4 linked regions of the Homo sapiens genome follow. The protein of the gene in region 1 purifies or fractionates together with the protein of each later gene. This does not show direct contact. Each region holds a gene or a part of one and is shown on either strand. Other genes may lie near its edges. The genes, in order: RAD23A, EEF1A1, USP5 and PSMC2.

Region 1 (6,948 bases):
ACCTGCCGCCAGAGAGGACAAGAGCCCATCAGAGGAATCCGCCCCCACGACGTCCCCAGAGTCTGTGTCAGGGTAAGGCGGGGGCAGCAGTCCCAGCTTGGGCCCTGTCCTCCTAGCACATTCCAGCGTCCACATAAGTGGTCCCACACACCTGGAGGGAGGGCAAGCCGCCAGAAGCCAGGGTCCGATTTCTCTCTCTTGAATTTGCAGCTCTGTTCCCTCTTCAGGTAGCAGCGGGCGAGAGGAAGACGCGGCCTCCACGCTAGGTGGGTGGGTGGTCCCCAGGGCAGAGGTGACTGGGTGCCCCAGCCATCAGCTGGGCCTTGTCTGGGTGCGGGAGGGCCTGGGAGCTGCCCTTTCCTCTTCCTGGTGACCTAGGCTTTGCTGCTTCCTCCACAGTGACGGGCTCTGAGTATGAGACGATGCTGACGGAGATCATGTCCATGGGCTATGAGCGAGAGCGGGTCGTGGCCGCCCTGAGAGCCAGCTACAACAACCCCCACCGAGCCGTGGAGTATCTGCTCACGGTGAGGTGGGGCTTCCGCCTCCCGGGGAGGCCTTGAGGGAGTACCCGGGCGTCACTGCCCTGATGGGCGGTTGGGAAGGCAAAACCTGCCCTGAAAAGCCTTTGGGTAGTGATTCTAGCCACTAAAGGCTTCCCACAGGAGGCTGGATGTGAGTGATGGGTGGGCCTCTGGAGGGCAGGGCCGAGGCCTCATCTGTGTCCTGCCAGGGCATGGAGGAGGGTGGCAGCAGGAGGTCTGTGCATTAGAACTAAACAGGACCCCTGACAGGGAATTCCTGGGAGCCCCGAGCCGGAACACGGTTCTGTCCAGGAGAGCCAGGTATCGGAGCAGCCGGCCACGGAAGCAGGTGGGTGTGCACATGCCGCATCTGCCCTCCAGGTACCTGACTCACATTACACTCCACCCCGCAGTGCTCCTAGGAGCCCGGCGTGGTGTCTGACTGCACCCCTTCCTACTACCAGCAGGAGAGAACCCCCTGGAGTTCCTGCGGGACCAGCCCCAGTTCCAGAACATGCGGCAGGTGATTCAGCAGAACCCTGCGCTGCTGCCCGCCCTGCTCCAGCAGCTGGGCCAGGAGAACCCTCAGCTTTTACAGGTGTGGTCCCAAGGGCAGAGGGAGCTAGGGCAGCCACCATTTCCCTTCCCTGTGGGCACCAGAGTCCATAACACGTAGGAATCGTTCTAGGTCCGGAAAGCAGGACTAAGCACATGCTTCCCCCACGCCCCTGTGCTTCCTGTGACCTGGTGACCCCCCTGGTTTCTCAGTCTTCCCAACCACCTTGTAAGGTGTGGGTGCTGTCAACATCACCTCCCACAGAAGAAGACACCGGAAACTTAGAGCAGCCTGTCATTCCCAGGGTCACGCAGCTGGTAGTGTGTGTGTCTGCCTCCTGCCTCGGGGTGGGGTCCTGGGCTGGGGCTCTGGCTTCACATACAGATGGTGCTGCGTAAATGTCTGTAAGGTGGCATGACGTCACCCAGGACAGCTGTGCCCCAGTTGGCTCTGGGACAACTCTGCTCAGTGAGGCTCCATCTTGCCCTTGAAGGTTCACAGGAAGAGTGGGGGAGTGGCCCCCTGGGTGCAAGTAGGTTCCTCTGGGTTCTCGGTGAAGTGCCTACCGGTCTTGGCTCAGGACCCTGCTGTCTGACCCTTCTCCTCTCACTTCTCAGTCCCTTGCCAGCTCCTCCTGGTCGGTCGTGTTCTTCATCTGCACTCAGCCCTCCCTCATAGTGTCCTGGGGCCTTCAGTCTGTATGGGAACCCCCAAATCTATGTAGCCAGCCCAGGCCTCTCTGAATGCCACACTCCATGGCTGGCTTAATTAACTCTCCATCAAAGTGCTCCCTAGACTAGACGTCTAAGACTTAGAACAGACCTCCCCAGTCCTCCCCGATCTCTGCAAGGATTAGCTTGGGGTTGCTTCAGCCCCAGGCCCTGGGGATCTGCTGGGGTCTACCCCTTGTCCTGTCTGCTCTTCCCACTCAGCCCCTCCCTGCACTCCAGCTCTCTGGTAGCCTCTTCCTGGGCCTCTGCCACTGCATAGTCCCACAGTCCACTTTTCAACCATGAGGCAGATGACTAAAAAGCACTTTCTTTTCTTTTTTTTTTTGAGAGGAAATCTCGCTCTGTCGCCCAGGCTGGAGTGCAATGGCGCAATCCCGGCTCACTGCAACCTCCGCCTCCCGGGTTCAAGCGATTCTTTTGCCCCCGCCCGAGTAGCTGGGACTACAGGCGCCCGCCACCACGCCTGACTAATTTTTTGTATTTTTAGTAGAGATGGGATTTCACCCTGTTAGCCAGGATGGTCTCAATCTCCTGACCTAATGATCTGCCCGCCTTGGCCTCCCAAAGTGCTGCAATTACAGGCATGAGCCATCACACCTGGCTGACTGAAAAGCACTTTCTTCTTTAATGTGAAAATGATCAGATGCATACAATGGTAGAGTTATATCAGAGCTTCCAGATACCCAGGTAGGGCACAGTGGCTCATGCCTGTAATCCCAGCACTTTGGGAGGCTAAGGCAGGCAGACCACTTGGTCAGGAGTTTTAGACCAGCCTGGCCAACATGGCAAAAACTCGTCTCTACTATAAATACAAAAAGTAGCTGAGCATGGCGGCAGGCCACTGTAGTCCCAGCTACTCAGGAGGTGGAGGCAGGAGAATCGCTTGAACCCAGGAGGCAGAAATTACAGTGAACCGAGATTGCCCCACTGCACTCCAGCCTGGGTGACAGAGTGAGAGTGTCTCAAAAAGAACAGAAACAAAAATGAACAAATGAACTTCCAGATACCTAAATCCAACACCCAGATGAGTTCACTTTTTTTGGTTTGGGGGCTGGTAGGTGGGAATAGAGACAGGGTCTATGTTGCCCAGGCTGGTTTTGAACTCTTGGGCCCAAGCAGTCCCTCCTGCCTTGCCTCCCAAATTGTTGAGGTTACAGGCGTGAGCCACCACACCCGGCCAAGTTCACCTTTCTAAAAGATCCACAGACCACGTCTTTTCCCATGTAACTGTCACCACCGTGGCTTCCCCCTGCTCTAGAAAATGGGTCTGACTTGGGCCTTCCTCTCTGGTGTCATTGTCTGCCTCCTCCCCCTTCCCTTGTTCGCTGTTTTTTGTTTTTTTTGTTGTTGTTGTTTGTTTGTTTTTGAGATGGAGTTTCGCTCTTGTTGCCCAGGCTGGAGTGCAGTGGCGTGATCTCAGCTCACCGTAACCTCCGCCTCCTGGGTTCAAGAGATTCTCCTGCCTCAGCCCCCAGAGTAGCTGGGATTACAGGCATGTGCCACCACGCCCTGCTAATTTTATATTTTTAGTAGAGATGGGATTTCTCCATGTTGGTCAGGCTGCTCTCAAACTCCTGACCTCAAGTGATCTGCCTGCCTCAGCCTCCCAAAGTACTGGGATTGCAGGCATGAGGCACCGTGCCCAGCCCCATTCACTCTGTTCCTGCTTCTGTTTCTGAGACTTCCCAGATGCATCCACCCTGGGCCTTTGCACTTGCTGTTTGCTTTACCTGGAGGAAACCCTCTGCATCCGCCATACTGCAGGCCTCTCCACCAGCCCTCATCTGCAGTTCCTTCCTAGCCAGACACTTGCAGTTGTCTGGTTCATTTATTGGCTCACTCACTTATTTTTTGAGAGTCTCTTGCCCAGGCTGGAGTGCAGTGGCACAGTCTCGGCTCCCTGCAACCTCTGCCTCCTGTGTTCAAGTGATTCTCCTACCTTAGCCTTCTTGAGTAGATGGGATTACAGGCACGTGCCATCACACCCAGCTAATTTTTGTATTTTAGTAGAGACGGAGTTTCACCATATTGGCCAGGCTGGTCTCGAACTCCAGGCTGGTCTAGAATCACCTGAAGTGATTATAGGTGTGAACCACTGCAGCCAGCCTATTTATGTATTTATTTATTCAAGACAGGGTCTTGCTCTGTTGCCCAGGCTGGAGTTCAGTGGCTTACTGCAGCCTCCGCCTCCTGGGTTCAGTCTTATGCCTCAGCCTGCCAAGTAGCTGGGATTACAGGCGTCTGCCACCACACCTGGCTACTTTTTGTATTCTTAGTAGAGATGGGGGTTCACCATGTTGGCCAGGCTGGACTCGAACTCCTGACCTCAAGTGATCCACCTGCCTCTGCCTCCCAAAGTGCTGGGATTACAGGTGTGAGCCACCGTGCCCGGCTTATTTCTTGGCTCACTTAAAAGCACATCATCAGCTCTTCCAGGGTAGGGCTTGTGTCGACTGCTATGTTGTGTTTGGCCAGAACAGGCTCCTCTGGATATTTGCCTGACTGAATGAAAAAGCAAGGGCTGTGATGACCTGGGGAGAGGAGGGGACCAGGGCTGTGAATTACCTTCCCTTCCCCACCCTCTCCTGCAGCAAATCAGCCGGCACCAGGAGCAGTTCATCCAGATGCTGAACGAGCCCCCTGGGGAGCTGGCGGACATCTCAGATGTGGAGGGGGAGGTGGGCGCCATAGGAGAGGAGGCCCCGCAGATGAACTACATCCAGGTGACGCCGCAGGAGAAAGAAGCTATAGAGAGGGTAAGAGGCCTGGCTGAGGGGTGACTGCAGGTGGGCAGGACCCCTACCCTCTCCTGCTCACACTTAACCTATCTTCCCACAGTTGAAGGCCCTGGGCTTCCCAGAGAGCCTGGTCATCCAGGCCTATTTCGCGTGTGAAAAAAATGAGAACTTGGCTGCCAACTTCCTCCTGAGTCAGAACTTTGATGACGAGTGATGCCAGGAAGCCAGGCCACCGAAGCCCCCACCCTACCCTTATTCCATGAAAGTTTTATAAAAGAAAAAATATATATATATTCATGTTTATTTAAGAAATGGAAAAAAAAATCAAAAATCTTAAAAAAACAAGCAAACAGTCCAGCTTCCTGTCCTCCTAAAGTGGCCCCTGTTCCCATCTCCCGGGCCAGACAGCTGTCCCCCCGTCCTCCTCCCCAGCCCAGCCTGCTCAGAGAAGCTGGCAGGACTGGGAGGCGACAGATGGGCCCCTCTTGGCCTCTGTCCCAGCTCTCTGCAGCCAGACGGAAAGGCGGCTGCTTGCCTCTCCATCCTCCGAAAAACCCCTGAGGACCCCCCCCCATCCTCTTCTAGGATGAGGGGAAGCTGGAGCCCCAACTTTGATCCTCCATTGGAGTGGCCCAAATCTTTCCATCTAGGGCAAGTCCTGAAAGGCCCAAGGCCCCCTCCCCAGTCTGGCCTTGGCCTCCAGCCTGGAGAAGGGCTAACATCAGCTCATTGTCAAGGCCACCCCCACCCCAGAACAGAACCGTGTCTCTGATAAAGGTTTTGAAGTGAATAAAGTTTTAAAAACTAGCCCTATGGTCTGTGCCTGCTGGGGCTCCCCGCGCCCACCTGTCTGGGTCTTGGGGGGCTGGCTGGGCACAGGCAGGCATGGTGACGGGTGCCTGGAAGGGGGAGAGGAGTCTGTGAGTCCCTGCAGATTGAGGCTTCCGGTGTCTCCTCCCCCAGTGTGTCATTTCCAGGCAGTGGACCCCAGCCCAACGTTACAAGGACTGCTTCTCCCCGGCCCCCACCATCATCACCACAGTCTGTTTTGGCTATACTTCCCCCCCCACCAGCCTTGTAATTGGCTAATTACTGGAGATGAATGTTGGTAAACAGAAGCCTTCTTCTCTTCTGCCATCTGCTTCTCCATTATTTGCCCATTGTACACCCCCCTTTTCCTCCCACTGAAGCCCCAGTTAGTCAGCAGGGCCTAGAGTCCCTGTCCCCTTTTGAGTACAGCCAAGTGGGGGATTCCCCAGCTCTTAAGTATTGGGGGAGGAACCAGGGGACCCAGAGAGGCACACCTTGAGAGGACGCAGATCTCTTCAGGGGTACTGCCAGGTAGCAGGCTTTATTGGGAAGGGACAAAGCCTCAGGAGCTGGGTGCCCCAGAGGCTGCTGGGTCTTGAGCCACAGCTGCAGCCAATGCAGCAGCTCGCGCCTCCTTCTTCCGTTTCTGTTTTTCCTCCTTGAGGCGCTTGCGCTCCTTCTTCTCTAGGTCCTGGAGCAGCTCCTGGAAGCGGGCACTCCTTGGGTCCACCTGGTAGCCCAGGAGCTCCTGGGCCTCAGCCTGCAGTCGGGCCCTCCTCTCCTTGTCAGCCTGGGCCTTCTCCCAGTTCTCCCGCTGCTGCTGCTGCCAGTTCACAATCATCTGTGGCATCTTGGCCATGCACTCTGCGATGTGCTGCTCCCTGCAGGGGAGGGAGAGTGGGCTGTGACACTGGCACTCAGCCAGGGCAGAGCCCACCCACCCATATCTCACCCATAGGCCTTTGCCCACGAGCCTGCCTCCTCAACTCCCCCAGTAGATTAACTGTCAGGAAAAGCCCTTGACAAGTGAAGAAACAGGAAGAGATGATGAGAAAGTTACCTGTGCATGAATTTGATCACAAGGGCATGTCAAGCCCCAGTAAACCCCAGGTGCCAAAGCCAAATCAGCATTTCACTGAGCTGCCTACTGAGCAAGCCAAGTGCCACTCCCATGGATAATTTCACACCTTTATTTCATAGACATTGCTGAGCACTTCCTGTACAGAGGCCAGGCCCAATTCTAGGCACAGGAGTGAAAGCAAGAAAGACATTTCCCACCAATCCTTGAGTTTGTAGCTACCAGTCACAGCCCCATTTTTTTCTTTTAAGTTCAGGGGTACAAGTGCAGGTTTGTTACGTAGGTAAACTTGTGTCATGGGGTTTTTTTGTACAGATTTATTTCATCACTCAGGTATTAAACCTAGTACCTAGAGGTCATTTTTCCTGATCCTCTCCCTCCACCCTCCAAAAAGCCCTAGTGTGTGTTGCTCCCCTGTGTGTCCATGTGTTCTCATCATTTAGCTCCCACTTACAAGTGAGAACACGTTGTATTTGGTTTTCTGTTCCTGTGTTAGTTTGCTAGGGATGAT
Region 2 (9,637 bases), on another chromosome or scaffold:
AACTTTTTTACATTTAAGTAGTCATCCTTACCCAAAGGTGGATAGTCTGAGAAGCTCTCAACACACATGGGCTTGCCAGGAACCATATCAACAATGGCAGCATCACCAGACTTCAAGAATTTAGGGCCATCTTCCAGCTTTTTACCAGAACGGCGATCAATCTTTTCCTTCAGCTCAGCAAACTTGCATGCAATGTGAGCCGTGTGGCAATCCAATACAGGGGCATAGCCGGCGCTTATTTGGCCTGGATGGTTCAGGATAATCACCTTGGAAAAAAGATTTGCATTCAGTGCAAATCCAAAGTCTCAAATGACTTTAGCCTCTGCAATAAGTTAATGTTACTTTAAATTGTTACCTGAGCAGTGAAGCCAGCTGCTTCCATTGGTGGGTCATTTTTGCTGTCACCAGCAACGTTGCCACGACGAACATCCTTGACAGACACATTCTTGACATTGAAGCCCACATTGTCCCCAGGAAGAGCTTCACTCAAAGCTTCATGGTGCATTTCGACAGATTTTACTTCCGTTGTAACGTTGACTGGAGCAAAGGTGACCACCATACCGGGTTTGAGAACACCAGTCTCCACTCGGCCAACAGGAACAGTACCAATACCTAAAAATATTTACAGCATACTAAATACCTATGAAGGCAGACAGTACTCTATCAACTCAAATTCAACTTTGTTTACAGCCAACTTACCACCAATTTTGTAGACATCCTGGAGAGGCAGGCGCAAGGGCTTGTCAGTTGGACGAGTTGGTGGTAGGATGCAGTCCAGAGCCTCAAGCAGCGTGGTTCCACTGGCATTGCCATCCTTACGGGTGACTTTCCATCCCTTGAACCAAGGCATCTGAAACACAAGCATGCCAATTTGTGTAAGCATGAAATCGCCATTCCCAGAGCTTTTTAACAATGGTCTTGAAAGCCACTTACGTTAGCACTTGGCTCCAGCATGTTGTCACCATTCCAACCAGAAATTGGCACAAATGCTACTGTGTCGGGGTTGTAGCCAATTTTCTTAATGTAAGTGCTGACTTCCTTAACAATTTCCTCATATCTCTTCTGGCTGTAGGGTGGCTCAGTGGAATCCATTTTGTTAACACCGACAATTAGTTGTTTCACACCCAGTGTGTAAGCCAGAAGGGCATGCTCTCGGGTCTGCCCATTCTTGGAGATACCAGCTTCAAATTCACCAACACCAGCAGCAACAATCAGGACAGCACAGTCAGCCTTTAAAGAAAGCAAAGACATATCCCTGTCAACTCTCCAAATGACAAAACCAGTGTACAAAGCAAGCCTTTTGGGATAAAGAAACCTAGAATTATTAATCCCACCAACCTGAGATGTCCCTGTAATCATGTTTTTGATAAAGTCTCTGTGTCCTGGGGCATCAATGATAGTCACATAGTACTTGCTGGTCTCAAATTTCCACAAGGAGATATCAATGGTGATACCACGTTCACGCTCAGCTTTCAGTTTATCCAAGACCCAGGCATACTTGAAGGAGCCCTTTCCCATCTGTAAGGATTAAGAGTCGTTACTTGGTTACTAAAACACAAACTCCAGCTTCAATTTCCTTGTCCCCAGCCCTTAATTGGCAGTTTCCACTTTACAACTCCAAGTCCAAAGTGATTTTAGTCACTTTGGGTTACAGAAGCAACCAAAAATCAAACTTTTATAAGTCGGATCTTAACTATTAACATCCAAATCTACTCACTAGCAATACGATTACAGAAGTCACCAAAAGCAAAATTATTTCATAAGTAAGGTCTTAACTATTAGCATTCAGATCTAAACCACTCACTAGTTCTGGGGAAATCACCTAATGATTCTGCTGGTAAAACTCATTTTAGTTGATCTTTCCCTTTCTGGTATTAAACATACCTCAGCAGCCTCCTTCTCAAATTTTTCAATGGTTCTTTTGTCGATGCCACCGCATTTATAGATCAGATGGCCAGTAGTGGTGGACTTGCCCGAATCTACGTGTCCAATGACGACAATGTTGATATGAGTCTTTTCCTTTCCCATTTTGGCTTTTAGGGGTAGTTTTCACGACACCTGAAATGGAAGAAAAAAACTTTGAACCACTGTCTGAGGCTTGAGAATGAACCAAGATCCAAACTCAAAAAGGGCAAATTCCAAGGAGAATTACATCAAGTGCCAAGCTGGCCTAACTTCAGTCTCCACCCACTCAGTGTGGGGAAACTCCATCGCATAAAACCCCTCCCCCCAACCTAAAGACGACGTACTCCAAAAGCTCGAGAACTAATCGAGGTGCCTGGACGGCGCCCGGTACTCCGTGGAGTCACATGAAGCGACGGCTGAGGACGGAAAGGCCCTTTTCCTTTGTGTGGGTGACTCACCCGCCCGCTCTCCCGAGCGCCGCGTCCTCCATTTTGAGCTCCCTGCAGCAGGGCCGGGAAGCGGCCATCTTTCCGCTCACGCAACTGGTGCCGACCGGGCCAGCCTTGCCGCCCAGGGCGGGGCGATACACGGCGGCGCGAGGCCAGGCACCAGAGCAGGCCGGCCAGCTTGAGACTACCCCCGTCCGATTCTCGGTGGCCGCGCTCGCAGGCCCCGCCTCGCCGAACATGTGCGCTGGGACGCACGGGCCCCGTCGCCGCCCGCGGCCCCAAAAACCGAAATACCAGTGTGCAGATCTTGGCCCGCATTTACAAGACTATCTTGCCAGAAAAAAAGCGTCGCAGCAGGTCATCAAAAATTTTAAATGGCTAGAGACTTATCGAAAGCAGCGAGACAGGCGCGAAGGTGCCACCAGATTCGCACGCGGCGGCCCCAGCGCCCAAGCCAGGCCTCAACTCAAGCACGAGGCGAAGGGGCTCCTTAAGCGCAAGGCCTCGAACTCTCCCACCCACTTCCAACCCGAAGCTCGGGATCAAGAATCACGTACTGCAGCCAGGGGCGTGGAAGTAATTCAAGGCACGCAAGGGCCATAACCCGTAAAGAGGCCAGGCCCGCGGGAACCACACACGGCACTTACCTGTGTTCTGGCGGCAAACCCGTTGCGAAAAAGAACGTTCACGGCGACTACTGCACTTATATACGGTTCTCCCCCACCCTCGGGAAAAAGGCGGAGCCAGTACACGACATCACTTTCCCAGTTTACCCCGCGCCACCTTCTCTAGGCACCGGTTCAATTGCCGACCCCTCCCCCCAACTTCTCGGGGACTGTGGGCGATGTGCGCTCTGCCCACTGACGGGCACCGGAGCCTCACGCATGCTCTTCTCCACCTCAGTGATGACGAGAGCGGGCGGGTGAGGGGGCGGGAACGCAGCGATCTCTGGGTTCTACGTTAGTGGGAGTTTAACGACGGTCCCTGGGATTCCCCAAGGCAGGGGCGAGTCCTTTTGTATGAATTACTCTCAGCTCCGGTCGGGGCGGGTTGGGGGGGGTGGTGACGGGGAGGCCGCCTGGAAGGGACGTGCAGAATCTTCCCTCTACCATTGCTGGCTTAGCTCCAAAGGTTGTATTGAGATTAGGGTGTACCTTCGCCTCTCAATCAGCCTCCCGTCCTCAGCCTTGCCATCTCGCTAGTCCGGGACAAATCCCTAGAGCGTCTTCCTCTGCGGGTCTCAGCCCAGCCCGGGGTTGGCTCCTCCTCCGCCCCGGCTTCCGCGCCCCTCCCGTGTGGCAAGGAGTACCAGGCCCGGGGACCCCGAGGGGCTTGGGGCGAAGGGTCGGGACTGGGGGCCTCCTTAACGGCTCACGGACTTGCGAGAGGTTCGGCTCGATGGCCGTGAAAGCGACGAATCCGCTCCTGTGCTGGCCTCTTGGCTCCTTCCATTCAAAGCCAGCTGCTTTTATGGAAGCCCGTAACACGTCATCTCCCCCTGGTACTCCAGATGTCCAGGCTTTCAGTTTAGAATAGACTCAGTCCTACAGTTAGCTTTAGATCTAATTCTAGTTTTGTTACGCCAAAAAGTTCCTGCGAGTGTGTGTGTGTGCCTCATGGTACTTTTTAAATTAAAAGGTGTACAGTTATTTGATTGCAAACATAAGGAACCTAAAATGCTTTCAGATTTTCCACATGATCTCATGTAGAGGCTAAGATCTACAGCATCAGCAAGTTTATCCACCCAGTTTCCTAACCCCAACACTTGCTATGAAGTCACAGCTTCTCCTATTTAAATAAGTGCCTATTATATTTAAATAAGTGCTGTCGTTTTCTGTCATCCTATCGATTGTAACTGCATTTTAGCATAAATCTAGGGCAAGATTGGATGAGCTTGGCCTTTTTGGATGGCTATCAAGGCAGGCCTTGGGAAATGCTCCTCTGAGGAAAGAAGAACGTTTATTTTTAATGAGCTAATTACTAGATCATTATGTTTCTTCTTCCAGCTGTAGAATATCATTGCCCAGCTTCTCGAACAAACTTATTTATTAACAAGTATTTGAGAACCTACTATGTGGCCAACGCTAAGTACTGTGGAGTTCCTTCTGGAGAGGAAACCACAATCAAATTGGAAGAGGAAAACAAGTTGGGAAGCAGTTGAAGGCAAACGCTATGGTGCTTTCTTGGTTTCTGTATCTTTGTAGTGTAGTTTTTCTAGTCCTTTCAGTTTTCACAGTCCACTTTTTTTTCTTTCTTTCTTTTTTTTTTTTTTTTTTGAGACGGAGTTCTACTCTGTTGCCCAGGCTGGAGTGCAGTGGCGCGATCTCGGCTCACTGCAAGCTCTGCCTCCCGAGTTCAAGCGATTCCTCCTGCCTCAGCCTCCCAAGTAGCTGGGACTACAAGCGCGCCCCACAAATTTTTGTATTTTTAGAAGAGACGGGGGTTTCACCATGTTGGCCAGGCTGGTCTCGAACTGCTGACCTCAAGTGATCCACCCGGCTCGGTCTCCCAAAGTGCTGGGATTACAGGCGTGAGCCACGGTGCCCGGCCACAGTCAAAGTTTTTCCTCAAGCCCCTGTGATTGCGGATAATAGTAAACGCTTTATAAATACCTTACACAGAATGTTTTTTAAAATATCACGCAAGGAATGACAAAATTACATGAATCCTTGATTTATACCTAAGTAACATATTGTGCAACACAGACTGGGTGTTCTGAATGTTGCGATAGTGGCCGAGACTTTCATTAGGTGAAGGGAGATCTCAATTCTCGCGTTTAAGAACCAACACTGGACCGGGCGCGGTGGCTCACGCCTATAATACCAGCACCTTGGGAGGCCGAGGCGGACGTATAATTTGAGGCCAGGAGTTCGAGACCAGCCTGGCCAACATGGTGAAACCCTGTCTACTGAAAATACAAAATTAGCCGGGCGTGGTGGCGCATGCCTGTAATCCCAGCTACTTGGGAGGCTGAGGCAGGAGAATCGCTTGAGCCCGGGAAGCGGAGGTTGCAGTGAGTCAAGATCACGCAATTGCACTCCAGCCTGGGCGACCGAGTGAGACCTTGTCTCAAAACAAAACAAAAAACCAATACCTTTGAGCCCATCGGAGCCATATTATTGTGCGTTAGGGGTAGTCACTGGCCACGAGCATTTTCTCAGGGCAGAGATCACATTTCTGCTCTCAGTGGGGCCGGGGTGGGCCGGAAGCCGGAGAGGGACTGGAACGCCGGTCCGGGGAAGCCCCGCGCGCACCGGGGCGCACCCTGCTTCCTAGGGAGGGAGGCTGGGGCGGCAAGGCGGGCGCGGGTGGTCCTTGCCCCGCGCCAGCTCGCCAGGCCACGTCGCTGGCGTTTTTCCAGCGCTGGGTCACCTGCGGGCCGGCGGGTTCCCGCGGCGAACAGCTGGGTGGTATGGATACGCCGCTCGAGCCTCCGCAGCGTCAGGTCGCCAGGGTCCGCCCTGCCACTCGCCCCACCTTGAGGTAACTTTTCTTCCGCCTTCTGACTGCGGAAGGAAGGGCCTGGGAGGAAGCAGAAAACCTCACGTGGCTCGGGGTGAGGGTCGGTTTTTGTCACCGTGAGCTGGCCTCTAAAAGACTTTTTAAGTCCCAAGTCTTCTTTTTCTTCTTATTTTAAATCCCTTTTTCCCCAGACCCTATGTTTTCAACATAATCATAACGGATTCCCCGCACCCCTACGCCTTTACAGAGATCCAGTATGCTTTTTACTGCCTTAAATGTTAAAGCGGTAACAGTAACGATGTTGAGGCTCGTAAATGTGTTTTGGGGTCATAATCTAAGGTAGTATTTGCTGAAGATTTTTCTTAAACTTGCTCATAACCATTTAGAGTGACAAACTTAAAATACATTGTAAGTAAAAATCAACATGACCCCTTTTAGGAAGAAAAACAAAGATTTCAGTTATTTACATAGGAATAAGGCAAACAAGAATAGTTCTTTGAGGTACTTAATTGTGATTCACCAAGCTTTCAGTATAGTCTGACCACTCTGCTATTAGTCTAATTTAAAGCAGCCTTAAATAGTTACATTTTACCATGGCTTGCCACGTGAAAATGATTTTTAAATCTTTTCATCTGCTGTAGCTACCTCTGAAGAAAAGATGATGGCCCGGTGCGGTGGCTCACGCCTGTAATCCCAGCACTTTGGGAGGCCGAGTCAGGCGGATCACCTGAGGTAAGAGTTCGAGACCAGCCTGGCCAACATGGTGAGACTCCCGTCTCTACTAAAGATATAAAAATTAGCCAGGCTTGGTGGTGTGCACCTATAATCACAGCTACTTGGGAGGCTGAGGCAGGAGAATTGCTTGAACCCGGGAGGAGGAGGTTGCAGTGAGCAGAAATCGTGCCACTGCACTCCAGCCTGGGTAACAAAGTGAGACTGCATCTCAGAAAAAACTATATATATATATATATATATTTTTTTTTTTAAAGGGGTATTTTAGAATATGATTAAGCCAAGGAACTATTTGGACTGAGAATCCAATTTTTTTTTTTTTTTTTTTTTTTGAGATGGAGTCTCACTCTGTCACCCAGGCTGGAGTGCAGTGGCACGATCTCGGCTCACTGCAAGCTCCGCCTCCCGGGTTCATGCCATTCTGCCTCAGCCTCCCGAGTAGCTGGGACTACAGGCGCCGGCCACCACACCCAGCTAATTTTTTGTATTTTTTTTAGTAGAGATGGGGGTTTCACCATGTTAGCCAGGACGGTCTTGATCTCCTGACCTCGTGATCTGCCCAACTCGGCCTCCCAAAGTGCTAGGATTACAGGCATGAGCCACCACGCCCAGCCGAGAATCCAAATAAAATGACACTTTAGTGTGACAGGCACTGTTCTAATATTTGCAATATTTATTGTAATCCTACCACCCACATTGTATAGATGGAGCAGCAATGGGCAACAGGCAGTTTATGCGTAATAAGCACATATAGACATATATTCTTTTTTAAAGTTTTACCTTTTTTTGCACAAAATGGTAAAATACAATATGCCACCTTGCTTTTTTCACCTAATACAGCTTGGTGATCTTTTTTCATGGTACCTTAGGGCCCAGCAGAGCAGGATTGGAACCAGGGTAATCTGTCAGAGAGCTAGTCCTAACCCTTACCAGCAGGTCGAGGCAGCCTGATATAATGAAAATATCAGTGGCATCGGTGTCAGAAAATTAGGGATTTAGTCCTCGCTCTTCTGCTTAGACCTATGACAGCCCAGCAGTTCTGAGTACATCTGTGAAATGGGTTGCCTCTTTGTTCCTACTTAACACCTATGTCACAATTCTAATATGCAATGACATGAAAAGACATGGGGGCTCTTTATTAGTACAAAAGACAGTGTTTCTACATGCTTTTTGGAGAATGCCTGTCCTTAATTGGTATGCCTGTGACACCAACTTGAGTCAGTAGAGAAAATAAACTCATTGGTATCTTTGTAATTGTAAGCATTTTTACGTAGGTAATACATGTACATGGTAAGAAATTGTACAGAGGTTATACAATGAAATGTTACTCTCATTTTAGCAGTGTAAAGAAAGTCTGAAGAATACTCCAGGAAAATTGAGGAAACTAAAGCTATTTCTACTACTGGTCTCATAATTGCAAAGCCAGTGCCTACCATGATAAGTGCTCTCTTACTTGGTATGAAGGAAATGATTTTCTTCCCTTGCTATTTTTTTTAGTAAGTATATTATTTTATTGCTACATTAGAAATGAAAATACACTCTGAGAAGCTGCAAAGGCATGCAACTTCATAAAGATTATGAAGCAATGGAGACACTCATAGAAGGTTAAAATTGGCTTTTCCTGTAGGAGGTGCAAAGACTATACACACACAGGTCATCAATGGTTAGATTATTGGCAGCATCTGCCATGTGGAATTTATGTGCCAATGGGAAGATTTTTGGTGTTTTGCTTTGTTTTGTTTTGTTTTGAGACGGAGTCTTATTCTGTCACCCAGGCTAGAATACAGTGGCATGATCTTGGCTCACTACAACCTCCGCCTCCCGGGTTCAAGTGATTCACCCGCCTGAGACTTCCATGTAGCTGGGATTGCAGGCATACACCACCATGCCTAATTCATTTTTTTCTTTGTTTGTTTGAGATGGAGTCTCACTCTGTCACCCAGGCTGGAGTGCAGTGTCATGATCTCAGCTCACTGCAACCTCCGCCTCCCGGGTTCAAGCGATTCTCCTGCCTCAGTCTCCCGAGTAGCTGTGACTACAGACATGTGCCACCACACCTGGCTAATTTTTGTATTTTTAATAGAGACAGGGCTTAGCCATGTTGGCCAGGGTGGTCTCGAACTCCTGACCTCAGGTGATCCACCCACCTCAGCCTACCAAAGATTACAGACGTGAGCCATCATGCCCAGCCCCCATTATATGATGTTTGAACACCGTATTTCTCCTGCTGGATAGTTTCCTTGGAAGAAAGCCTATTTTTTTCTCCAGTGTTAGTTTTCTTCAATTTTGACCTGTCAAACTTCACTTCTGACAAGTTTGGGTTTATCACTCATCTTGATTAAAAGAAAGCCTGAAGGCTTGAAGACTCGTGAAACGCTGGGCTGAGACCATACTGCTCACTCTGGACCAGATTAGGGTTCCTGAGCAGAGCCCAGCAGTTGTAAGCCCAGTAGCAGGGCCCCCTCACTCAGTATTCATTTGTGAATCCATATTTTATAAATCATATGAATTTTCAGTATTTCTTTGTCTTCATAGGTGATATAGTTAACAGAGCACTTGACTAAGAGACAAGCTGGAATATATTCGTAGTCCCACATAATTTCTTTATCAGAGTGATCTTGAATAAATCACACTTGAGCTCATTATTTCTTTTTTTTATTTTTATTTTTTGAGATGGAGTCTCGCACTGTCACCCAGGCTGAAATGCAGTGGTGCAATCTCCGGTCACTGCAACCTCCGCCTCCTGGGTTCAAGTGATTCTTCTGTCTCAACCTCCCAAGCAGCTGGGATTACAGGCGCCCACCACCATGCCTGGCTAATTTTTTTGTATTTTTAGTAGAGACGAGGTTTCACTATGTTGGCCAGGCTGGTCTTGAACTCCTGACCTCATGATCTGCCCTCCTCGGCCTCCCAAATTGCTGGGATTACAGGCATGAGCCACCACGCCTGGCCTGAGCTCATTATTTCATAGTAAAATAATCTAACATCTATTTCATAGAATTGATCATAAGGATTAAATAAGATAATGGACCAGATGATGCAAACCATTTTTACAAATGTCAGCGCTCATTATACTTAGAAAATAATCA
Region 3 (6,650 bases), on another chromosome or scaffold:
CTGCTCTTTTAACAGCTGGGGCTCCAATTTCCTCGAGCTATTCTCGGCATAGGCACCTCACAGACTCAGCATTCTCCAGGGAGCAACCCTGCTTCCCTTCTAAAATAGCCCATCCTCACCTCCCCTTTGCAAGGCAAGGATTTGTAGCAAAAGGAGAGGGGCCAACTCCTGGGGTTTGTATTGAGGCCTCTGGGGAATGAACGAGAAGGGGATGCCTCTTTGGATCAGGCCCGCGGCTCTCCGATTTCGGTGGAGGGAGGAAGGAGGATGGAGGAGAGCATCCTTTGCCCGTGGGTGGCAGAGACCTAACTGACTCAGAGGCCTTGCGCTTTGCTGTTTCCAGGTTGGGGAAAGCGGTAGGATGGCTCCTCACTCCCAAATCGCTCAGCCTGTTTGGCACGGGCTCGGTCCCTTCCGTGGAAGGCGGGAGTCGTTCAGGTTGCCGAAGGGAAGGGGTCAGATCTGGGGCTCAGGGAGCCCGAGCAGCTCGGCGCGGGGACGCGGACGCCGGCGAGGAAGGGGAGGAGTCTGGGGCTACGTGCGGCGGCGCACGGCGCGGGAGGCCAGGGCGCAGGGAGCGGGAAGCCCACGCGGCCCAGCCTCCCCCGGTCTCCCGCAGAGCCTCGGGCTCCGCTCCTAACCCCGTCGCCTGGCGGGCACAGCCCCAGTGCGCGCCCCGGGGCCACCTTCCTCCAGGAGACCCAAAACGTCCTTACCTGCCCCATAGTCCAAGGGGCATCATGTGCTCCGCCCTGCCCCCTCGACGCACCGACGGGGCTGCGGCTGCGAGGCCCCTGCCCGGACCCCAGCGGCCCTCGTCCCACAGCCCTGCATCAGGTCCGCGCGGATACCGGCCTCGGGGCCTCGGGGCCTCGGGAGAGGGCGCTGCCACTCCTGCCCCGGCCCCGGCCCCGGCCCGGCCAGACCCCTCCTCGGCGAGGGCTTACCGGTGTCGGCCGGCACCTTGGCCGCGTTCAGAGTGCCGATGAGCTCCCCCAGACTCTGCTTCCGCCCGTTCATCTTCCAGTTTCCCCCAACGAAGAACTTCCTGGAGGGCGCCATGGCGCTGGAGCCGAGGCGCTGAAGGTCAGTGTCTGCGCGCAGTCGCGGCCACTGCCCACTTATATAGAGCGCCGCGAAGTGGAACTCCGCCTCCTCGCCGTCCTCCGCCATGGCCCGCCCAGTCCCCCGGAGCCCTGCCCCCCGCCCGCCCTCCTGCCGCCGCCCCGGCCGCCGCCCGATGATGCACTGTTCCGACGTTCCCCCTTCTTGTGGCAACGTTCTAGGAGAGTCGGGGGCTCGGTCGCCTCCGCCTCGATTGCGGGGCTTTCGGGACAAGGCGAGACCTGTGAGCTCCGGCGCTCAGGGGAACCCTCGCTTGGCGACTTGAGTCCCCCACGGGGCCAGAAGTGGTTTTCAAGCGGAACTAGCTGGTGGCAACTTGGCCGTAGCCCAGATCGCCCACTGGGGCAGAGAGGGCCCCTCTCCAACTGTGGGATAGACAACCTCCTTCGCCCATCGGAGCAGCTCATGCCCGACTGCTGAGCAGGCACCCTTGTACCCAGGGAGTCTACCTGAGTGAAAACTTGCGGGACAAATGCAGGGTTCACAGCGGGAGGGGCAGCCCACACAGGCATAGGCCGCCAGGATCATCCCAACCCTCGCCCCGGCTGGCAAGGCCTGGCAGGAACTGCAGGGACTGAGTCCCAGCCTGAAGCCAGCTAGCCAGTTAGGGACATTTGGGAAATCCTCCACTCCTGTGTGAATAAAGAGAGGGAAGGGTTCTTCACTCCATCTTTCCTTGGCTTTGTGTCGGCATTTAGTCACTCTACTCCACCTCCCCACCCAACCCCAATTTTCCTAGAGCTCTAGAACCAGTGAAAAGTGGAGACTTGACTTTGGCAGGGAGGCGGCCAGAGTTAGGAGTTTTCTTAAGCGCCCTCCTGCTAACCCCAGGAAGGTAAGCCTCTCCCCCAAGGTATCAAACAGGACACAATTTAGCCGTTGTACTTTTATTCACATCGTGTATTTTGGCATTTTCCAGAGAAGGACAAGGAAGAGACAGGGTGGGGGAAAGACTGAGGCAGGAGGGCAAGTCGGGGGGTCCCTATTTCCCTCACATCCCTCCTTGACCAACCACACAGGGGCAAACAAAGGGGGAGGGGAGGCACAGGTGATCGCTCCACTGGGAGAGGATGCACAAAGCTACACCCACGCGCACAAACGAGACCCCTCCCTCCACACCAGGGGGCTGGGCGGGGCGACACAGAGAAGCAGAGCACTGTGGATTCCGGGGGCAGGGGAAGCAACAAAGTCTCCTTACAGACAGGTGGCCGGCCCCTCCCGTCCCCGTCCTGCTCCATCCCCAGAGTCTATCGCTGCCCCTCTGCTCTGCCCAGCCATTCTCCCACGGCCTCCAGCTTCTTCCCTGCTGCCGGGGACAAAAGGAAAAAGGGTACAGAGCAGAGGGGCTGAAGTCCATCCCTCAGCCCCTCTCCCTCATGCCAGGTGGTCTTCCCCTGCCCTCATTGGTAAGGGGTGAGGCAGGCTCTTAGCTGGCCACTCTCTGGTAGAAGTAGATGTAGCCCAGGTCCTTGGGCGGCTTCTCGGAGGCACACACTTTCTGGTCATTGTAGATCACCCATCTGGGGAAGTGGGGAAAACAGAAAAGGATGAACAAACTGGGCATTCAAAGTGGCATCATGTAGTCTCTCAGACATGGCCCCTGGAAGTGCTCTCCACACTCTCTGCCCATACCCCAAATCCACAGCCCAGCCACCATGTGCCTTAAGGGAGCTTCACAACCTCACAAGGGTCACGGACCCTATTATGTCTTCAGATCCTCCAGTACCTTTACAACCACCCTCCACCCATTCCAGGGAGGCAGGGGGTTGGTAAACTTTTTCTGGCAAGGGCCAGATAGTATTTGAGGTTCTGCAGGCTCTCTCTCTGGTCTCTGACACAACGACTCAACTTTCCTGCCGCAGCGTGAAAACAGGCACAAACAACACATAAACAAGTGTGTCCAGGTTCCAGTGAAAATTTATTTACAAAGGCAGGGGGCCTGGCCAGGCACGGTAGCTCATGCCTGTAATCCTAGCACTTTGGGAGGCCGAGGCAGAAGGATCACTTGAGCTCAGGAGTTCAAGACCAGCCTGGGCAACATAGTGAGATCCCATCTCTATTTAAAAAAAAAGCTGGTGGCCAGATCCAACCCTTGGGCCAATCACTGCTGCAAGACCTTCTGTCACTCTCTGGCACTTTATGTCCCCATCAGGCAGTCCCTTCACCTTCTCCCATAGCTATCCCAAGGACTTCCAAATGGCCCTCCTCATTCCCACCACCATTCTCCATTCAAAACGCATGTGGCCAGCACTCACCTGCCTTCTTTCTTGATGTGGCAGACGTAGTGACCACACATGGTAGAGGTGCCCATGTGACTAATGAAGGCAAAGAGCTGATACTCTAGGAAAGGAGAGAGGGGGTCAGAGAAGGAAACAGAAGAGGAATGCTTGAGTGATGGCCCAAAGATCCAGACAACAGCTCAGACTCAGGACAGGAGTTTCAGGGAATGTGAGGCAGGTACTGGGCCAGAGCCTGTCTCCATGTCAGAGAACCCCACCCTCAGATGCCACGTTGAGGTGGAAAGAAGCCCCTGACTCCTGAGGAGGGCAGAGCTGCCTGAATGAGGGATCTGGTGTAGTAGACTGACCAGATTCCACCAGGCCTGTCCTGCTTCCTGGGGATACTCACTTCCAGGACCATCCCGGACTTTAGGTCCCACTGGCACAGACTCAGAGATGGAGTCGGCAGCTGAGCGGCCCTCTGAGATGTCCATGGCAGCTTCAGCATCCAGGTCGTCAATGTGACTGAAGATCCAGTCCACAGCCCGTTCTAAACTATTGTTCTTGGAGAGGAAGGAAGCATTACTTTTTTTCTTGAGACGGAGTCTTGCTCTGTCGCCCAGGCTGGAGTGCAGTGGCGCGATCTCGGCTCACTGCAAGCTCCGCCTCCCGGGTTCACGCCTTTCTCCTGCCTCAGCCTCCCAAGTAGCTGGGACTACAGACGCCCACCACCACGCTTGGTTAATTTTTTGTATTTTTCGTAGAGACGGGGTTTCACCGTGTTAGCCAGGATGGTCTTGATCTGCTGACCGCGTGATCCGCCCACCTCACCCTCCCAAAGTGCTGGGATTACAGGCGTGAGCCACCGCGCCCGGCCAAACAGAAGCATTACATTTTTAACAAGTTCTGGGGCAAAAAACCCAGCAGTGAACGCAGGCTTCAGCTCCTTCATCGCAGCCACAAAAGAGTGGTGCCCAACCTCGGCCAGACCACACCTGTTGTCTTTGGTCTTGCTCAAGAAGGATGGCCCCTCATTCCCACCCCCTTCTTCCCCACTGGCCCCATGTCCTTAGCTGGGGCAGCCCATACCGTGGCCCGCAGCGCTTTCAAGGCCTGGTCCCGGGAGAAGCCCATGGAGACAATGGTGGTCACACAGTCCTCAGGAGGGGGGTCGGCTGCTGCGCTTGTGGAGCCCGGCCCACTAGAGCCAGGCAGGATGAGGGGGTTTGCAAAATCTGTGGATGTGAAGGGGTTGATGTGTTTGGGGGAGGATGGAGGCCCTGCCCCACCCTGCTCCCCACCCCAGCCTACCTGGATCATCCATGTGTGACATGACCCAGTTCATGGCGGCCTCAGCCCCGCTGTTGCCCGTGTAGTAGACAGCTTTGCGGCAGGCGTCCATAGGGAATCCCATCTCCACCAGCTGGATGATGACTGATTCATCCAGCATGGGCGCTGTAATGGGAATTGTGGGTACACGGACCGACTGATTGGGCCACTGTTTGCTCCTCCTCCCTCCCCCAGGACCCAGCCCTCTTCCAATCACCCATTCCATGCATTTTTCTCCCATGGATTGGCACCTTATCCCAAAACCAAAATGACCACACAATTGTAATGTGGGTCCCTGCCCATTCTCACAGAATGGGCCCTGTTTCTGGAGCATGATACCCCCACCCTACCCAAACCAGGGAGGTAACAAGGGCAGAGAGGCCACTAGCTGGCACTGCTGCCATCCACACCCAGAAGGTGGCTAGGAGTGCGCTGGGGAGGCCCCATGTCAATCAAAGAGGGCAGAGGAAATTTGAAAGGGAGGACAGGAGAAACACAAAGGACAGGGGCAGGGGATGCAAGGCAGAGAGGCCCCCATCAGCACGGGAGAGAGACAGGCAGGAAGAAGAGTCACTAACATGTCGGAGAGGAGAAGTGAGGGGAGCAGAAGGAGTCTTCGTCTTCGTTGCCATAGAAACCAAGGCTACCTTTGGGCTCATCCGGAGTGACCAGGGGTGGGGCAATGTCTGGCAGCTCCTCCTCTCCGGGCTGCAGCCCTGTGCCCCTCAACTGGGAGATGTCGAGCTCCTCTGGCATCTCGATGGACACATCTGTGGGAAAAGGGTCACCTCAGCAGCTCCCGGAGGCCTACCTGGAAAGTGATTCGGGAACCTCAATCCCCTGCCCCCTATGTCAGAACTGCTCTGTAAAGAGGAGCTGCTAAAAGCACGGCACCCATCTTAGGGGTCCCAGTATAAGACAAATAATACTAAGCCTGGGAGTTGGGAGGCCAGGATGCTGGTCCTAGATCTACCATAAATAATCTATGGACAGGGCAGGGGGCCTAGAACTTGTGAGACAGAATGATTTTATATTCCTGTGAGTCTCAACTTCCTTATCTAGAAAATGAAGGTACATCACGAGTTCTCAAATGACAGTCAGGGACCTGTAAGACTCACGAGAATTAATTGTTTCAAGATTATCAAAATGAAAACATTTTACCAATTATTTTAAAAAACTACAAAAATCACTTTTGGTTGTAAATCATACCTATAACAATCAAAGAAGTCTTTTAATATTTTTAGTTAGTGCTTTCAAACTAGATAAATTTTGAAACATTGAAGGTGATTTTTTTTCCTCTTTCAGAGGAAACTTTGAGAAACACTAGTTTATATGTGTTAAAGCCCCTTCTTTTTCTAGCATTTTCTGTGTAACCTCCCTCATTCCAGCAGCCATACCCAGTTTCTTGGGCACCCAGTCTAAGCCGAAGGTGAACTTCTTGATCTGGATGACCAGGTAGTCAGGGAATGAGGCAAATCGTGTGGTCCTAGGGAAGAGAGACTGTGCTGGTACCCAGACAATCCCCAGGGTTTTCCTCTCCTGAAACTCCCACCTGGGGTTCAGCCCCTCATGGGTAGAAGTCCCAATAACCCAGAAGATCCTCCATATTCTTCTCTTCCCCTGGGCAGGTGTCTGATGCCTGTCCTCGGCCAACGAGGAGCAGTAGAGGCCAGAAGGAAGGCTGTCAACAAAAAAAAGAAAAAGAAAAAAGCCCAGGCATGGTGGCTCATATCTGTAATTCCAGCACTTTGGGAGGCCAAGGCAGGACGACTGCTTGAGCCCAGGAGTTAAGAGACCAACCTGGGCAACATAGCAAGACCCACACGTAGGGAAAAAAACATAGCAAGACCCACACATAGAAAAAAAAAAAAAACCCACACAGAGAGGAAGAGCTGTTTCACTGGCAGGAGCAGCAAAGGGCTGGGTAGCTGACTCCCCGAGACCAAAGCCCTTTTTCAGGTCTCACACCCATGCCAG
Region 4 (6,920 bases), on another chromosome or scaffold:
CATAAAGAAAAGTCCTTTGACCTTCTGAAATCTCGTGCAGTATGACAGTGGTTGATCTATGTCTCATGAATCGTTGGAATATGTTTGAAAACATTTGTGAACCAGGGCCCAGGAAACTCCAATCTATGTCTTAGACACTGACTCTGTATTAGTATATGGCAGCTGATAATGGGATCCCAATTGCCAATCTCATCTGCAGTGGAACCCCAAGAAACTGTTAAGGGTATGGATCCTCTTCAAGCCCTGGAATAGCTCATTTTGTAGTTGCAGGAAACATCTAAAACATCCACTCTGTGTGGTTTGATCCTGTGTCCTTACCTGTTTAGCAGAGAAAGACAGTACCAGCCTCTGAGTGTACACTTTGAGAAAATGAGTCTGCTCTCTTGCGTGGATGAAGAAAAGAGAGGGTAGCAAACCTAGTGAATCTGTCCTGGGGTGGGTGGGTGTGTTTTTGTGTGTGTGTTGGGGGGGTGGGGGTGTGCCCTTGTGTGGGGATGAGGGAGGGAAGAGCAGGTGGTGGGGAAGGCTCTTTTATGTCTGCCCCTTTAAAGATAGTAAATCAATTTAAATTCTAAAATGAAACCGAACTTCCTTGGTGTGAGCCTGTATGCTTTACTGAGTGCAAAAAAATGCTATTGGTCCTTTTTAGTGCACCTTACCTTTCAGGAGTGCCTTTAGGATTCACGATGTTTAGATTCTTACTGTTTTGAATGCTCATAAAAGTTTGAGAACTATAAAAGTATTACTGAATTCTTCAAACATACAGCTAACCAAAATGCATGCAATGGTTTTGAAACCCCTCCAATCCCAGCAACACAACGGTAAAAGTTAGCACCACACCAGGTAACGTGCCTGCTTAGTGACTTAGATTTTATCAAGTTTGAGCATCTTAAAACTCCACCTGGCCTTTGAGAAAGCTGTACCAGGCTTTTCATTATACTGGTGTATTGCATTTCACTTTACGTAACAGATAAACCTCAGAAGCATCATGAAAACGGAGTTTTTTAATACACCTAATCACATTTTTAACACTAAGAAGTTTTTAAACAGGATTCTACGGTATATTTTTCTAAAGTCATAAATCCTTTGTATTCTAACTTATCAGCACCCTGACACATGTATATATATATATGTGCATCTACACACATGTATATAGACACATCTATTTTAGGTGGAGGAAGTTACTGGTAAATGTCTGTTTCATCTCTTTGAGTACAAACATGCTGACCTAGGCAATGTTGATGCTACCTGCATAAATATGCCTTGACAGAAAAACCCAAATTTTTAAAGTAGTTGATTTTACATTTGATGTGTGGCCGATTAGATTTTCCTTATGGACCTAAATTATCACGATAGTCACTCTGTATCGTTAGAACAGAGTGTGCTCAACATTATCTAATTCGAGTTGTCTTTAATTGGTATATATGAGCACGTGGCCATGACAAAGTGGAAAGACTTCAGAGTGTGTTCTAAATGTGTACATTTATTTAATCAAAACATTCAAAAACATACATCTTCAGTCATTTTCTTAAGTATATTTTATTGTAAGCATAACCTGAAAATAGTTTGCTCTATTTAATTCCTCAAGAAAAATTAGGGCAGGGTTAAAAAAGATGAATTTTTCTGATCAAGTTCATAAAAATGAAAAATCAAGAATGTTGGTTGGATTTTATAAAAGGCTTTAATTTCTTTACTTGAAAACTTTCATAATTTTAAGTATTTCAGTGCAAAGCAGCATTTTCTATGTTGTCAACTTTTTCTATTGTGAATTAAAAATATATCCAACTCTTATTTTGCAACTTATTTATGAATATCGAACTTCAATAAAAATATTCATTATTGTGCTTTGGTCTTGGCATTGGGGGAAGGGGTAATTGTGGTAGAAGATAGGATTTGGTGGTGGTTACACAGGAGGTAATTTTAAAGAGATGTTGAGGATTCTAATATAACCTTTATTTTTAAAATACCTCACTGTAGACCAGAAGCCTAACAGAAACTTTACCAAAATTTTAAAGTAATTTGTAAAATGAAAGTAATCACTTTTCTGTATGAAGCCAATTCTGGACTTTCTAAATTAGATCATATGTACAAATATTTTTTTTTCTTTTTTTACTAGTCTTTCACTTCTGGCTGAACATTTTTCTTTCTGCTTTATTGCACCACTTTACTGCTCATTAAAATCACTAATTCTTCCTGATTAATTTGAAATCAAATGGCAATGCAAAACATATACATCCAATGTTTCTCCTACTTTAAAAAAGCTTTGGCCAAAGCTTTTATTATTCAATATGGTGGTGGGAAACTATCATAATGCATGTGGTCATACGCCTAAGTGAGCTACTTTGTTGCGGGACAGAAGCGGATAATAGGAGCATAGGTAATGGAGCCAACAAACTTGTACTTGAAAGCCAGCTTTGCCACTACAAGTAAGTAGGAAAGTTTATGCATCCATTGGATGAAGATCCATTTGATAATCTTCCTCAGTGGACAGATGGGAGGATACAATGAGAATTTATATGTAGAGCACCCGGCCAGCATATGCCTAGGATAGAAGCCATCTAAGCAAGCGCTTTGTATGATGTGAAATCCTTAAACGGGTGTGGGTCAAAAAAATAGTCAAAATATATTCTAACAAGCTTTTCTGCCTAATAACATTAGAAATCACCTTTTATTATATTACAAGAAGAGATATGGAAAAAAGCATACAATTTTGAAGCCATTTATTTGTTTATGAATTGGTTATTAACAAGTCTATATAAGGTTAGGATTCCAATTTAAAGTTTTCACTTGAAAGCCTTCAGGGTTCAGTTGTATGTCATGTAACGAGGAGTAGCACTGAATTTGGCATAAGACTTAATGACCTTATTTACAGCTTCCAAGAAATCCTTCTCGGTAGCAATTTTTCGCCGTGCTCTGATGGCAAACATACCAGCCTCTGTGCAGACGCTTCTAATCTCAGCACCTTTCAAACAAAAAGAAAATAAACGGGCTTAATTAAAGCAGCCTGAGCAGACAGACCAGCAAATATAAGCAAGAACTTTCTACTTACCAGTGCTATTTGGACACAGTCGTGCTAACAGTTCAAATCTGATATCTCTTTCAACACTCATTGAACGAGCGTGAATCTTAAATATGTGGGTCCGACCCTAAAAATGAGAAAATTGACAAATATTAAAATGGAAAAAAATCACAGGAAGAAAAAACTTCAAAAATCCCTTTCCTAAAATGAAATGGTTTTCTTACCTCTAGATCGGGCAAGCTAAATTCAATTTTTCTATCCAATCTCCCTGGCCTCATCAGTGCTGGATCCAAAGTATCAGGTCTGTTAGTGGCCATCAGCACTTTAATATTGCCTCTAGGATCAAAACCATCAAGCTGATTGATCAGTTCCAACATTGTTCTCTGCACTTCATTGTCACCTCCAGCACCATCATCAAAACGAGCCCCTGAGAAGACAAAAGGAAAGATAAGCTCTTCAAGTCCACTCAAGAGTAGCACTATGCATGACCTGAAAGTACCAAAAATCTCAGCTCAAATCATGTCCTCAGGCACAAGTGACATCCCACTTTGAAGCAAATCCTGTAAGAACAGCTTGCTTTATATAAAACTAATTAGAAAGTGAATCTTTGCTTTCAAAAGTATTCATCACAGATTTACTTAACGTTTTTTAAACTGCCTATGGGGCAGTTTAGTGTTTTCAAAGTCTACCACATTTATTACTTAATTTGGACCTCTCAAAAACTCATGAAGTACACAAGACAACAATTATTCCCTTTATAAGATGAGCAAACTGAGGCTCAGAGATTAGTTAAAATAACTTGTCCTCAGGAGTTCGAGACCAGCCTGGCCAACATGGTGAAACCACGTCTCTACTAAAAATACAAAAATTAGCCAGGCATGGTGGTAGGCATCTGTAATTGCAGCTACTCAGGAGGCTGAGACATGAGAATTGCTTGAACCCAGGAGGCAGAGGTTGCAGTGAGCCAAGATCATGCCACTGAACTCCAACCTGAGCAACAGAGTGAGACTGTTTCTTAAAACAAAAAAAAAAGTCTAGATTTCATGGCTAATACTGTATTTCATCAAATCTGTGAAGCCAACAAGAACATTATTTTATGTGCACTAAGAAAAACCACCATCAATTAAATTATGCCCCAGTGCTTTCTTATGACATTAGATGATACTTCTCAATTTACGAGTTGTTTAAAGTATGGAAATAGGTGTTGTATGAATGAAATCAGATATAGACTGAGCATCCCAAATTTGCAAATGCAAAATCCAAAATGCTTCAAAATTTGAAAGTTTGAGCACCAACATGACAAAAGCAATACTCATTGGAGCACTTTAGATTTCAGGTTTTCAGATTTGGGATACTCAATCAGTATAATGCAAGTACTTCAAAAGCCAAAATCCAAAATATGTGAATTCCAAAACACTTCTCAAACATTTCGGCTAAGGGATATTCAACCCATAGCACAAAAATAAAGGCTTTGAAAAAATGACAATGGTATATAATGTGTCTTCTTGCCTTTATAGTTTAGCACTACTACTTATTAGATCTGTGGCGCCACTGTTTCAGAGCTCATAGAAGAGTTGGAGTTAAAATTCTGTACAAGATTAACATATCACGACATATCACTTTACAGCTTTCATGAAACTGAATCCTAAAGCAGTTCTCTAACGTATCATTCTCACCTCCAATAGCATCAATTTCATCAAAGAAGATAAGGCAGGCTTTTTTTGTTCTGGCCATTTCAAAGAGTTCACGAACCATTCGAGCCCCCTAATGAGAAAAATGATTTATTAATTCAAAATTGGTTTCAAAATATTTTAAAATAAGTAAAAAGTTATGCTTCAAACTTTTCAATATTTATTCCTAACAGTATTCTCACCCATTATTACCTAAACGTTTTTTATTTTTTTATTTTTTTGAGATGGAGTCTTCCTCTGTCGCCCAGGCTGGAGTGCAGTGGTGCGAGCTCGGCTCACTGCAACCTCTGCCGCCTGGGTTCAAGCGATTCCCCTACCTCAGCCTCCCGGGTAGCTGGGATTACAGGCATGTGTCACCACACCCCGCTAATTTTTGTATTTTTAGTAGAGACGGGGTTTCAGCATCTTGGCCAGGCTGGCATTGAACTCCTGACCTCATGTTCCACCCGTCTCAGCCTCCCAAAGTGCTGGGATTACAGACGTGAGCCACTGCGCGCAGCTATTTTAATTTTATTTTTTGAGACAGAGTTTCACTCTTGTTGCCCAGGCTGGTGTGCAATGGCACGATCTTGGCTCAGTGCAACCTTCGCCTTCTGGGTTCAAGCGATTCTCATGCCTCGGCCTCCCGAGGAGCTGGGATTACAGACATGCGCCACCACACCCGGCTTTTTCTATTTTCAATGGAGACGGGGTTTCTCCATGTTGGTCAGGCTGGTTTCCAACTCCTGACCTTAGGTGATCCGCCTGCCTCTGCCTCCCAAAGTGCTAGGATTACAGGCATGAGCCACCGTGCCTGGCCTATCTAAACTTTTTTTAAAAAAGACTGAAGTTTGCTCCCCAGTCCACCAAATTAATCTTGCCAGCCTTAAAATATTAAGTCATTTTCATGATTCTGTATCTATTAAATAGCAATAGGTTTCAGATCTGAAGAGGTCAAATTAATAGTTAAATAAAGGAACCATTCTAATTAGTAAAACTTGAGTAAATAAAAGCATCTGATCTATCACTTGGAATTCCTGATCATTGAATTTGACTTGCAAGTTTTAGTTAGGGAATAAAAGGATACCTCAACTCACGCAGCTCCGTAGCTAATTCTTATTGTAAATATACGAATCATCAACAGGTTTCAGATACAATACATATAGCCCTAGACTTATTCTCTAAATATATATATATATATATATATATATGTATGTCTACAAACATAAAAACAACCTATGTTCTCACTTTCTCATTAGGACTGAAAACACTGCCCCTGAAGTAAAAGTATACTTTTTAATTAATTTACCAGGCATTTCCGTAGAAAAGCCACATCTGTAGAAAATGTCACCCTTTTGAGGAGGGGGCATACTGGTTAAAATTTTAAGTGGTTGCCTATCTCCAAATGACCACAAAGGCAGCTTCTAAACTACTAATTACAATCAAGAAATTTCAGGTCTCAGGCCGGGCGTGGTGGTTCTTGCCTATACTACCAGCACTCTGGGAGGCCAAAGCAGATGGATCACTTGAGCCCAGGAGTTTGAGACCAGCTGGGCCACATGGTAAAACCCCTCTCTACAAAAAATAGAAAAATTAGCTGGGTGTGGTGGCATGTAGCCATGGTCTCAGCTACCTGAGAGGCTGAGATGGGAGGATCGCCTAAGCCCAGAGAGGTAGAGACTGCAGTGAGCTGAGATCATGTCACTGCACTCCAGCCTGGGCAACACAATGAGACTCTGTCTCAACAAAAGAAAAAAGAAATTTCAGGTCTGGATCCCTCAATGCAGAAGTGCCATTTTTAATTTCATTCATACTGTAAAATCTTTCACAAGGCTATATATTCTTTGATAAATTTACTTTACCTCACCGACGTATTTCTGTACAAGCTCAGATCCAATAACTCGAATGAAGCACGCATCAGTCCGATTAGCAACTGCCCGCGCACAGAGTGTCTTGCCTGTACCGGGTGGACCAAAGAGCAGCACGCCCTTGGGAGGCTCAATGCCAAGGTTCACAAACCTCTCTGGCTGTGATAGAGACACAATTTTCACACTTACCACTTCTGTATAACAAAAATCAGACTACTTCTAAATCAACAAAGTGCTTTTATGTTTAGTATTTTATCCTGAAAACCATACTTTAATATTTAAATCAAAATTATTAAGTCCACAATATACATACTTGAACTAAATAAGAAATTTTACTTATTCTAAGACATAAGTTCTAAACTG

What was found.
Region 2: the proteins of RAD23A (region 1) and EEF1A1 purify together in Homo sapiens (affinity purification with mass spectrometry; 2 studies listed by BioGRID and IntAct, with this or other methods). This does not show direct contact.
Region 3: the proteins of RAD23A (region 1) and USP5 purify together in Homo sapiens (affinity purification with mass spectrometry; 2 studies listed by BioGRID, with this or other methods). This does not show direct contact.
Region 4: the proteins of RAD23A (region 1) and PSMC2 purify together in Homo sapiens (affinity purification with western blotting; 4 studies listed by BioGRID and IntAct, with this or other methods). This does not show direct contact.

Annotation. Positions count from the first base shown.
Region 1 is NC_000019.10:12,948,287-12,955,234, forward strand, and holds the end of RAD23A (UV excision repair protein RAD23 homolog A), read left to right. Parts: coding exon 1-72; intron 73-210; coding exon 211-266; intron 267-399; coding exon 400-527; intron 528-794; coding exon 795-873; intron 874-988; coding exon 989-1,122; intron 1,123-4,402; coding exon 4,403-4,567; intron 4,568-4,649; coding exon 4,650-4,763; 3' UTR 4,764-5,356; downstream 5,357-6,948. Other genes in the region: GADD45GIP1 (large ribosomal subunit protein mL64), read right to left, coding at 5,922-6,240. UniProt on the Homo sapiens protein: Multiubiquitin chain receptor involved in modulation of proteasomal degradation. Binds to 'Lys-48'-linked polyubiquitin chains in a length-dependent manner and with a lower affinity to 'Lys-63'-linked polyubiquitin chains.
Region 2 is NC_000006.12:73,517,999-73,527,635, forward strand, and holds the start of EEF1A1 (elongation factor 1-alpha 1), read right to left. Parts: upstream 3,035-9,637; 5' UTR 3,002-3,034; intron 2,059-3,001; 5' UTR 2,029-2,058; coding exon 1,885-2,028; intron 1,519-1,884; coding exon 1,339-1,518; intron 1,231-1,338; coding exon 934-1,230; intron 851-933; coding exon 700-850; intron 613-699; coding exon 356-612; intron 267-355; coding exon 32-266; intron 1-31. UniProt on the Homo sapiens protein: Translation elongation factor that catalyzes the GTP-dependent binding of aminoacyl-tRNA (aa-tRNA) to the A-site of ribosomes during the elongation phase of protein synthesis.
Region 3 is NC_000012.12:6,861,979-6,868,628, reverse strand, and holds the end of USP5 (ubiquitin carboxyl-terminal hydrolase 5), read right to left. Parts: intron 6,160-6,650; coding exon 6,071-6,159; intron 5,485-6,070; exon of another isoform or gene 5,444-5,484; coding exon 5,252-5,443; intron 4,800-5,251; coding exon 4,656-4,799; intron 4,580-4,655; coding exon 4,434-4,579; intron 3,908-4,433; coding exon 3,754-3,907; intron 3,466-3,753; coding exon 3,381-3,465; intron 2,646-3,380; coding exon 2,552-2,645; 3' UTR 1,997-2,551; downstream 1-1,996. Other genes in the region: TPI1 (triosephosphate isomerase), read right to left, coding at 948-1,173. UniProt on the Homo sapiens protein: Deubiquitinating enzyme that participates in a wide range of cellular processes by specifically cleaving isopeptide bonds between ubiquitin and substrate proteins or ubiquitin itself.
Region 4 is NC_000007.14:103,363,939-103,370,858, reverse strand, and holds the end of PSMC2 (26S proteasome regulatory subunit 7), read right to left. Parts: intron 6,717-6,920; coding exon 6,552-6,716; intron 4,784-6,551; coding exon 4,696-4,783; intron 3,447-4,695; coding exon 3,244-3,446; intron 3,147-3,243; coding exon 3,050-3,146; intron 2,963-3,049; coding exon 2,805-2,962; 3' UTR 1,464-2,804; downstream 1-1,463. UniProt on the Homo sapiens protein: Component of the 26S proteasome, a multiprotein complex involved in the ATP-dependent degradation of ubiquitinated proteins.